Regions from separate parts of the Homo sapiens genome. Here region 2 is linked to region 1. The links come from fine-mapping of genetic effects on gene expression. A gene starts in region 1. The other region holds a variant in brackets. All regions are shown on one strand. Distances are from middle to middle.

What was found. PIP is the estimated chance that this variant, and not a neighbour inherited with it, causes the effect.
Region 2: its variant is fine-mapped to the expression of CD151 in whole blood (TOPMed, PIP above 0.99).

The regions. Positions count from the first base shown.
Region 1 is chr11:830,567-835,921 of GRCh38, forward strand. It overlaps CD151 (CD151 molecule (Raph blood group)), which reads left to right and starts at 2,386. Exons shown (of 9, transcript NM_004357.5): 1 at 2,386-2,460; 2 at 3,964-4,025. CRACR2B (calcium release activated channel regulator 2B) reads left to right here. Exons shown (of 9, transcript NM_001286606.2): 6 at 55-147; 7 at 300-466; 8 at 658-729; 9 at 969-1,420. The coding sequence ends at 1,143. RefSeq lists silencers at 1-209, 2,062-2,711, 2,722-2,951 and enhancers at 549-1,088, 1,089-1,626, 3,783-4,322.
Region 2 is chr11:694,279-699,633 of GRCh38, forward strand. It overlaps DEAF1 (DEAF1 transcription factor), which reads right to left and starts at 944. Exons shown (of 12, transcript NM_021008.4): 1 at 481-944. The coding sequence starts at 769. TMEM80 (transmembrane protein 80) reads left to right here and starts at 1,538. Exons shown (of 5, transcript NM_001042463.3): 1 at 1,538-1,568; 2 at 4,591-4,610. The coding sequence starts at 1,550. RefSeq lists silencers at 316-565, 586-705, 716-1,015, 1,516-1,935 and enhancers at 381-920, 921-1,462, 1,463-2,002, 2,543-3,082. The variant C/T (reference allele first, on the strand shown) is at 3,201.

The sequences.
Region 1 (5,355 bases):
CTTTTGCATGGCCGAGCGGCCGGCGGAGGCTCAGTGGTCCTCCGTGCGTCCCAGAACTTCGCCCGCGGGGAGCGGAGAAGCCGTCTGGAGCTGGAGCTGCAGAGCCGCGAGCAGGACCTGGAACGCGCGGGCCTGCGGCAGCGGGAGGTGAGCACCCGGCCCCTGCCCTGTCCCCACGGTCACCCGTGCACTCTCCCCCTGTGCCTTAGCGTCCCCGGGTTGTCGGGAGCCTGGGGCACGCGCAGCACCCCGGGGAAGAGGGGGCGTTCCTCGCCGGTCTCCATCCTTCCACCCTCCAGTTAGAGCAGCAGCTGCACGCCCAGGCTGCGGAGCACCTGGAGGCACAGGCCCAGAACTCCCAGCTGTGGCGGGCGCACGAGGCGCTGCGAACGCAGCTGGAGGGGGCGCAGGAGCAGATCCGCAGGCTGGAGAGCGAAGCACGAGGCCGCCAGGAGCAAACCCAACGGTGCCGTGGGACGGGGCTGGGCGGGCCCCGGTGCGTGTCCCGGGGGCGGGGCCGACGGGCGCTCAGGTCTGGGCCACTTTCATCCCCATCTCAAGTCCCAGGCCCGCCCCGTGGGAAGGAGGATCTTCTAGGGGGTCCGGGGGCTCCCCAAGGAGCCTTCCTGCAGCCGGGTCACCACCTCCCATCCACAGAGACGTGGTCGCCGTCTCCAGGAACATGCAGAAAGAGAAAGTCAGCCTGCTACGGCAACTGGAGCTGCTCAGGTACGGTCAGGCTCAGGCCCGAGAGGGAATGGGCTCAGCGGAGCTTGGGGGCTCCCAGCTCCCCAACATTCTTGGCTGCCGCTCTACTCCATTGGAAGTCCTTCCTTATGCCTGCCTTTCACCCCTCACGCTGCAGCCTCAGCCAGACACCTCTCTTCGCTCTGAGGGGAGTCGGAGCTCACCTCCCCCCACCTTGAGCTCCCTCAGACCCTCTCAGTGTCGGACTCCTCCTTCCCTAGGGAGCTGAATACACGGCTGCGGGATGACAGGGACGCCTGCGAGGCCAGGCGGGCGGGCAGCAGCTGCAGGAAGGCTCTGACAACAGCCCGCCTGCCTGGGCCCACCTGCTGCTGCTGCTGTTGCTGGGCTCGGCCCCCCAGACGCGGCTCTGGCCACCTTCCCAGTGCCCGGTGACCAGCCCCGAGTGACTCACGGACCATGAGCTAGAAGCTGCCCTTGCAGGAGGCTTGTCATGGGTCGGGGGTGCCCACTCAGGATGCAGGCTCTCCCCAGTGGGCCCCAGGCTCGCCTGACTGAAGACATGAAGGACCTAGCCTAGGAGTGGTCAGGGTCCCGGGAGTGGCCAGGGTCCCGTGTGTGCCCTCTGCCAGTCTTCGCTCTGTCCCCGTTCAATCAACCCCATCTCAGTTCAGCAGAAAACCCCCTCGTCAAATAAAACCCACTGACTGCACTGCGTCCTCCTGGGCCTTCCGTGTGTCTGGGAGCCACAGCCTGTGTGTGCCACATGGATGAGGTGGGCACCTGTGCACGCGTGCTGTGTGGGTGAATACAGGGAGCGCGGGCCTGTGGCGATGGGGCTGAGGTCCTGCGTGTCCTCTTGTGTCCCTGGTCATGCCCCAAACTCACACTACCCATCAAGGCTGGAGCCCCTCGGGGCCCTCGCCAGTGTGTGGATCAGGGCTCCCCACTGTCTCGCCAGGGAGGCCGGGCAGGTTCCCGGCCTCAGTCGGCCACCCCCTCCCATGCTGGTCCTCCCCTGTGGCTGTGATGAATGAGCTTGGTGGGTGGGCAGCCCCCTCCTTCCTCACTCCCACTCTTGGCGTCTTGGTGCAGCCCTAGGCCGGCCCTGCCCTTCGTCCCTCACCTCCTCGCACCGCTCCCAGTGGTCCCTTCCAGTCTGGAGGGCATGGGCCCCCCAGGACCCCATGGGTATGTCTCGCTGGGACCCCAGGCCTGCCCGGGTCTCCAGGCTGTCCACACTGCACGTACAGTAGCCCTTCTCCCGCATTTGCCCACAGCGCTAGGCCCTCCCACGCCCCAGGCCGGCATCGGTTCTGCCGACCCCTGCAGCCTCTGGGCGGTTCCTGGGTGAGGAGAAAGAGATGGGGGTTGGGCATGGAGGAGGGCCGGGTCGCCACAGCCCAGGGCCTCTGGCTAGGCTGGTCGCCGTCTTACCTCCGGGCCCGCCTCCCGCCCAGCTCCTCCGTCCTTGGACGGGATGGGCCCTTGCTGGGCTATTGGCGCCCCCAGGGCTGCAGCTCGCCCGGCCTCCGCAGTGCCAGGTCGACCCCCAGCGCCTACACCCACGCGGGTTCAGACCTGCCGAGCGCCCGCCGCCGCGGGAGGGGCTTGAGGCCGGGGCGGGGCCGGGGCGGGGCGGGGCGGGGCGTCCCCCTCGTAGGCTCCGGGCCGCGCATTCTCAGCGCTGGGAGCCGCCGCCCCCGCAGCTGCTGCCGCCGCCGCCAGGGCCCGGACTCGGACGCGTGGTAGGTGAGTGCGCGGCCACGACAGCTCGGCCGAGCGGGGCGAGCGGGGCGAGGGGGGCGAGGGGCGCGAGGGGGGCGAGGGGCGCGAGGGGGCCGAAGGCCCTGCGCGCCCCAGCCCCGGAGGCCCAGCCGCAGGCGCCGGGAGGTTCCGGGAGGCCGCACCCACCGCCTGGCCCAGCTCCCTCGCCTGCCCCAGCTCCCTCGCCTGCCCTTCCGCGGGAGGCGGACTCCGGGCGGGTTGGGGAGGCGCAGCGGGAAGGAGAGGCGCCTCCCGGGCCCTTGGACCGGCCTGACGGCCCCCTTCAGCCCAGGGGTCCCGGGACGCGCAGCCTGGACACCCTGCTCATTGTCCCTGGACACGGCAGTCTTCCCTCCGCCCGCAGCAGCCCCCGCCCGCGTGCAAGTGGGCGCGCCATTGGCCGCGCCGGGCGGGGTCGGCGGCGGCGGTGACCTCATTGCAGTGCCCCGGGGACGCTTGGCAGGCGCGGAGTCCCAGGTCCCCCTGACTGGGGCTCCCCCTGATAGGGCGCGGGCCGCCCAGGGGCCTGGTGCAGGTCCCGGGGACTTGGGGAGGAACAGACAACTATTTCTGGAAGGCCCTTTCCCAGGGGGTCCAGAGGGACCAGGCATTCCTGGGAAGAGGGGCCACTCCTCAGCGGGTCGCCTGTGTCCTCGCGGTGGAGGACGCATCTGTGCCCAGAACCAACTTCTCCAGAAAGCCTGGGACCTTACAGCCAGGCCAGGGGCAGGTCCTTGAGGGGCTCACACATCCCCCCATCGGTGGCAGACGCACACCCCGCCCCCCGGTGGCAGACACATCCCCCCGCTGGTGGCAGGGTCTGCCTGTGCCACCCTTCCTGCGTGTATTTAGGCCCTGGCTCCTTCATGGAGGGTGAATATCCCCTCTCAGCTCAGTGGTAAGGTCTGTCCCCCTCCAGCTCCATTCCATGATGCCTCTTTCCCAGGCTGTAGCTGCCGCTGTTTGTGGGGGAAGGGCCAGTGATGGGTCTGGAGCGAAGGCCAAGAGTGGGGCACCTGGGGGAAGGTATGAGGTCCCTCCCAGGATCAGACTGTCCCGAAATGTCGTCTGCCTTGGGAGGCCAAGGCGGGTGGAACATCTAAGGTCAGGAGTTCGAGACCAGCCTGGTCCACATGGTGAAACTCTGTCTGTACTAAAAATACAAACATTAGCTGGGCGTGGTGGTGGGTGCCTGTAATCCCAGTGACTCAGGAGGCTGAGGCAGGAGAATTGCTTGAACTCAGGAGGCGGAGGTTGCAGTGAGCTGAGATCGTGCCATTGCACTCCAGCCTGGGTGACAGAGCGAAACTCCATCTCAAAAAAAGAAAAAAAGAAAAAAACAAAATGTCTTGTGCCTTGCCCCACCCTAGCCCAGACTAAAATACCGGGCTTGGCCACTCCTCTCTCTGCCTCCAGAATGAACCCGGCCCACTCTGGCCCTTGGGCCAGACCTGTAACCTGTGACCTGACATGTCCTTGCCCCTCTAGCCTAGAGTCCTGGGGAGCTTCTGTCCACCTGTCCTGCAGAGGAGTCGTTTCCAGCCCGGCTGGTGAGTGCTGGCCAGGGTGGGGCAGAGCAGGCGGGGCGGCGAAAGTCCAGACCTGGCTGTGCTGTCTGGAAACGTGGCCCAGGGCGCTCAGCTGCTGTCTGCACCCCACGCCCTCCCTGGCTTCCCCATGCTCACAGCTTGCCCACTGCTGCAGGTCGGGCGGGCACGGGGCATCTGGGGAGGGGCATAGCCTGTCTGTGCTGCCCCCTCAGGTTGGTGTGGGTCGCCTGTCCAGGAAAAACCCTCCCAGTCTGCCAGGCTCCACCTGCCTCCACGCTCCATTCTCCCCACCCCGGCCAGGATGAAGGAAGGGCTGCCCTTTAACAGACCGTAAACAGGCCTGGAGAGCTTAGGAAGGGGCTGAGCTGGGGCCTGTCTGAGCCCCTACCCCTCTGCTGTCTGAGTGGCCTCCTCCGCCCTTACTGCAGGCCCATAGGCTCCTGCCAGCCTGTGACGTGCGGCCCCGGGAATGCCGTGGGGAGCGGGCAGGCTGGCATGAGCTCACCGGAGGTACCCGCTAGGGCTTCCTCCCCCGGCCGCTAGCAGGGGTGAGTCAGCAGTGATGGCGGGAGGTCCTCCATGACCCCTGTCCTGTCTGTGGGCACCAGGGGTCTGTCCTGGCTGTCAGGGCTCCTGAGTCGCTAGGAAGTGACACGTCCTGTTCCCACAGGGGCTCATTCACAGGCCTCCCAGGACAGTGGCTGGCTCTGCCCCGACTTCTGGGCTGGCTTGGGTATCTGTGTCCCCTCTTTTTTTTCTTTTTTATTGAGATGGAGTCTCACTGTCGCCCAGCCTGGAGTGCAGTGGCACCATCTCGGCTCACTGCAAGCTCCGCCTCCCGGGTTCATGCCATTCTCCTGCCTCAGCCTCCCAAGTAGCTGGGACCACAGGCGCCCACCATCACGCCCAGTTAATTTTTGTATATTTTTGATGGAGATGGGGTTTCACCACAATGGCCAGGCTGGTTGTGAACTCCCGACCTCAAGTGATTGCACCTGCCTTGGCCTCCCAAAGTGCTGGCATTATAGGCATGAGACACCGCACCTGGACTCCTTTCCTCTACTTTCTTTGGGTTAATTTGCTAGTCTCTTTTTATTATTTATTTATTTATTTTGAGATGGAGTCTCACTCTGTCGCCCAGGCTGGAGTGCAGTGGCACCATCTCGGCTCACTGCAAGCTTCGCCTCCCGGGTTCACGCCATTCTCCTGCCTCAGCCTCCCAAGTAGCTGGGACTACAGGCGCCCGCCACCACGCCCGGCTAATTTTTTGTATTTCTAGTACAGACGGGGTTTCACCGTGTTAGCCAGGATGGTCTTGATCTCCTGACCT
Region 2 (5,355 bases), 140 kb before region 1:
ACCAGGGGCAGGTGTGCGGGGCAGGTGTTTGGGGTAGGTGGGGCAGGCTGGTCACCTGGGGCAGGTATGTGGGGCAGGTGTGCGGGGCAGGTAGGGCAGGCCGATCACGTGGGGCAGGTGGGGAAGGCTGGAAACGTCGAGCAGGTGTGCGAGGCAGGTATTTGTGGCAGGTGGGGCAGGCTGGTCACCTGGAGCAGGTACGTGGGGAAAGTGTGAGGGGCGGGTGGGGCAGGTGTGAGAGGCAGATGTGAGGGGTGAGCTAGTCACGTGGGGCAGGTGTGCAGGGCGGGTGGGGCGGGCGGGTCACGTGGAGCAGGTGTGAGGGGCAGGTGTGCAGGGCGGGTGGAGCGGGCTGGTCACGTGGAGCAGGTGTGAGGGACAGGTGTGGCGGGCTGGTCACCTGGGACAGTTGTGCGGGGCAGGCGCGCGGGGTAGGCGCGCGGGAACCGGACGAGGCGAGAGGCCGGCGGGCGCACTTGCCTGCGAAGGCTGCGGCAGCGGCGGCCTCGTCGGGGCCGGGCAGGGCCTCGGCGCCCATGTCCATGTGCCCGGGCTCCGCCGCCATCACCGCCACTGCCGTGACCCGCGGCGTCTCCCGCTCCGCCTCCGAGTCTGCGTCCTCCTCCGAGTCCTCGTCCCTGCTCAGCACCGGCTCCTCCGCCTCGCCTCCTGCCGCGGCCGCGGCCGCCGCCGCCACAGCGGCCGCGGCCGCCACCGCCGCCGCCTCAGCCAGGCCCAGCTGCTTTGCCGCCGAGTCCGAGTCCTCCATCCGGACTCCGCCGAGCCTTCCCGAAGGCGCCGTCCGGGACCGCCCGAAGCGCCGGTCGCGGAGCCCGAAGCGGGGCCCGAAGAGGACGCCCGAGCTGGGCCGAGGCCGCCCGAAGCCGCCGCCCGAATAGGGACCGAAAAGGCAGCCAGCCGCCGAGCAGAGCCGAGCCGAGTCCGCCCGCGGAGCGGAGCCGAGGCGAACAGAGGCTGCCCGAGTAGGAGCCGAACCTGCACGAAGCCGCCGAGCCGAGACCGAGTCCTGAACCGAGGAGGGTCGAAGTTCCCCGAAGTGGGAAGCCGAATCAGTCCGAATAGGTCCGAGTCCTCACGAGGGCTTCCGAGAGACTCGGCCCCTGCTCTCCTCACTGTCCTGACAGGCTGAGGCGGCTGTCGTCCCCGGCCGACAGGGCTGGACGGCTCTAGGCAGATTCTCGCCGGCGGCCGGCGCAATTCTGCCTCTCAGAGAGAGCTTAGTGCCGCGGGTTTCGCCCGTTCCCGCCGCCGGCGGAAGCCGAGTCAGCCCGAGGCCGAGCCGAGACGAGCCGAATGTCCCCGAGGCCGAATGCTCCCGAACGTCGGTTCTCCACCTCTTCCCTTCCGAAAGTGCCCGAGCGGTGCCGGACGGACTAATCGGGCCTCGGCCGTGGCTCGGACGTCCGCTCCCGAAACGCGGCGCGGTCGGGCCCCTTCGTCAGGAGACGCGAAAATGGCCGAAGGAGCGCGAGCGCGCGGGCCGAGAGGCTGCCGGGATCGCGACGGACCGGCGGGCGGGGCGGGTAAGATGGCGGCCCCGCGGCGAGGTGAGCTCGGGCGGGGTGGGGGCTTCCGGGCTTGCAGCGGCGGGCGCGGCGTTTCCCTGTGGTGACAATCCGGTTTCCGCTTTCGGTGCGCTCACGGGGCCGTGCCACCGTCTCTACGTGAGCGAGACAGCTCCGTCACCCCATCGAGAAGCGCGGCCTGGCCTGGCCTGGGTGGCGGGCGTCCTGCACCCCGAAGAGCTCCCCCGCGCGCGGGCGCCTGGCCCCGGGCAGGGTGGGTGCGGAGCGGCTCTGGGGGCCCCAGTCCCCGGCAGCTCTTGTCCCGCGCGTGGTTTTTGTGAAGACACGTGGGCGGGATGGGCGCAGGGTTTCGGTAGCCTTGGAACTCTCGCCAAAGAAAATCGCGGGCGCCGGTGCCTCAGCCGTCCTGCCTGAGAGACTCGCCTCCGAGAGGAGGAAGGGACAGACCAAAGCAGTAAATCGGCCATCCTGCAGAGGAGCCGCCTTCTGCTGTCTGTGGGTACAGCCAGAACTCCCATACGCGGGCGCTGAAGTGCCAAACCTTCGTGCGTGTTCTCTAGTAATTAGGTGCATTGTTTTGAAGGAATAAAGAATGGCTACTCCATAGGCAGGACAGCCTCTAGTAACCAGGTTTGTTTTGTGTATTTTCATTTGGTTAAAAATTAAGTTTAGGTTGGGCGCAGTGGCTCAGGCCTGTAAGCCTGACAGTTTGGGAAGCCGAGGCTGCAGGATCATTTGAGGCCAGCCTGGGCAACATAGCAAGACCCCCTCTATAAAAAAAAAACTGTAAACATCAGCCAGGCGGTGGCGCACCCCTGTGGGCCAAGCTATTCTGGAGGCTGAGGCTGGCGGATCACTTGAGCCCAGGAGGTCGAGGTTGCAGTGAGCCGTGATGGCGCCACTGCACTCCAGCCTGGGCGACAGAGCGAGACCCCCTTCTACAAAAAAAAAATTAAAAATTACCCCGGGGAAGGCCAGGCGCAGTAGCTCACGCCTGTAATCCCAGCACTTTGGGAGGCCAAAGCGGGCGGATCACCTGAGGTCGAGGGTTCAAGACCAGCCTGACCAACATGGAGAAACCCCGTCTCTACTAAAAATACAAAATTAGCCTGGCGTGATGGTGCATGCCTGTAATCCCAGCTACTTGAGAGTCTGAGGCAGGAGAATTGCTCGAACCCGGTGGTGGTGGTGGGGGGGGTGGGGTGCGGAGGTTGCAGTTGGCCAAGATCGCACCATTGCACTGCAGCCTGGGCAACAAGAGCGAAATTCTGTCTCAAAAAAAAAAAAAATTACCTCAGGGAGCCTGTGGTCCCAGCTACGTGGGAGGCTGAGGCTGGCGGATCACTGGAGCCCAGGAGGTTGAGACTGCAGTGAGCTGTGATCAGGCCACTGCACTCCAGCCTGGGCAACAGAGCAAAACCCTGTCTCTAAAAAAACTAAGTGTATACCAAAACAAGATTTCTTAACACATCTTGTCCATTACATCAGGGAAAACACTTGTTCTCTTTCACTTCCATGTTTAACTTCTGCCTGACACAGCTATTCGTAGCCACATTGTGATTATAGTAAGTCACTGACAAAAAATGTTGTCCTGAAAGCCAAGGCTACGTTCGGTCAGAATGAGCTCCTGCAGGTCTGGAATTGTTAGAACAG[C/T]GTATCTGGTTATAGCCGCCCTTCATATTAATTATTAAAATGTTACATCACTTAAGGCTTTTATACAGTTTTTCCCCCAAGCCCCATAACTTCAATCTATAACAGTGAGCAACTAGCAGACACATTGGAAGTGTTTAAGAAGCCAGCCTTTAAGAAAAGGAACAGAAGGGACAAAAACCCCAATTAATGCGAAATCATCACAGATAATGACAGGTATTTAGGTGGCCTGGTTTAGCTAAGGCCTGGAAAAGAACAGATCGGGTTTAAAGAGTGGCCTGCCGGGAACGCGATGCGGCGTGGTCTGCCGTGCACTTGGCTTCCTGCTTCCATCCTGTGGTGCCTCTTCCAGGAGCCCAGTTCTGAGTCTCTGATGCCGATGTCCTGTATTTACTGGCTTAAAACTCTTGCCTGTGTGAGATTCCACAAACTCTGGCACAGAAGGCCCCAGATCTGCCCAAGAAGCTGTGGGATCAGCCACAAAATCTCACCAACGCCAGGTTTCTGTCCTGCCCTCCCTGGCGCTGAAGGGGAAATAGAACAGAGGCTGTGTTCAGGTTGCTGTCCTGCCTGCCGCCCAGCGGTGCAGCTTGAGCCTCCTTTTATGAGAGGTTTCCACCCAATTCTAGATGTGTATTGAGGTATCTACACATGGAGGGACGTGCACATATCACACGTGCAACTGGCCTGAGCCCTTTTCAGACAATTAGTCCGCTCCAGGTCAGCGTGGATCCAGGGTGAGTCAGAGGCGTCTTCAGATGCAAAACCTCAGAATCAAAAAGGAGGAAAGAGACTCCACTCACTCCTCGGGCTTCCTGTCATCTCTCAGGTGGGGGTGGGAGAAGGCCCAAGAGGTTGCATGATAAAAAGACTGGACAGCTGCATTGCTGGTTTGGAAAATCCTTATTTTTGGAGGGATATTTGGGGATAAAATTTCAGAGGAAAGCAAATGTCTCATCAATCATGAAAAAAGATTTGTTACAACCTAAGTCAGAAAAGGTTTTCATCTAGTCATATATGTGTGGCAAATACGGAGAAGCCACAGACGGTGAGCCACAGACAATGAGAGCAGCTGTTGGGGTGGGCTCCAGGGTGCTGCTTTCCCTGAGGGCCAGCTGGGTCTGGCCCAGGTTCACTTCCCACCCCGGTGCCCCCGGTACTCGCTGTCTCCAGCCTCAGGTTCTGAAAGGCAGAGACTCCTAGCCTCATTGAAGGATGGTTAGAGAGGCACGGGAGCTATCTAGTGGCAGGCCCACGGTATATGTTTGCTGCTTTCTACAAATACGAGATCAAAGGAAAATAAAGCAGGGGTGGTTCCTGTCAGTGTGGAGCGAGACCCGGGAAAGCATCCTGGTGGCTGTCAGGCCTTGCTCACGGCCCCTTTCTCTTTCAGGGAGAGGATCCTCCACAGTGGTATCCTGCTGCGTGCCCCTCCAGGACAGCACCCAGAGGCCCGAATTGCTGCTGCACAGAGAGCACTCGGCCTCACCCCACGTTTTCCCTAAGTTCTGTCTAGTAATTCCACTTTGGAGAGGGGGGTGTTCCTTGACAGATTTAGAGAGTTGATGTAACTTCCTCGGATCAGTTCTGCTGGCTCCATCCCCTACCTGCTCAGCCCTGCACAAAGTGGCTAAGCACGCCACACTGCCGGCTCCCAAGGCGATGGCCACCTGCCTCTGTCTCGGCCGCTAGTGGCAGGAAGATGGAAATCCCTCACTTTGTCCCTAGATTCATTTTATTTTATTTTTGTTTGTTTATGTTTTTTTAAGGACAGAGCCTTCCTCTCACCCAGGCTGGAGTGTGGCAATCACAGCTCACTGCAGCCTCAGCCTCCTGAAGCTCTGGCATCAGGCGGGAGCCACTGTGCCTGGCCCCATAGACTCATGTTAGCATAAACAAATAGGAAATGTACACAGCTCAGGAAATGGCTACTAGATACTTAAGTCCCCCAAACAGAAATATATTTCCTCTGAAGAAACTGAAAAAAGTGGCCGGGCGCAGTGGCTCATGCCTGTAATCCCAACACTCTGGGAGGCTGAGGTGGACAGATCACTTGACACCAGGAGTTTCAGACCAGCCTGGCCAACATGGTGAAACCCTGTCCCTACTAAAAATACAAAAAATTAGCTGGGCATGGTTTTGCACGCCTGTAATCCCA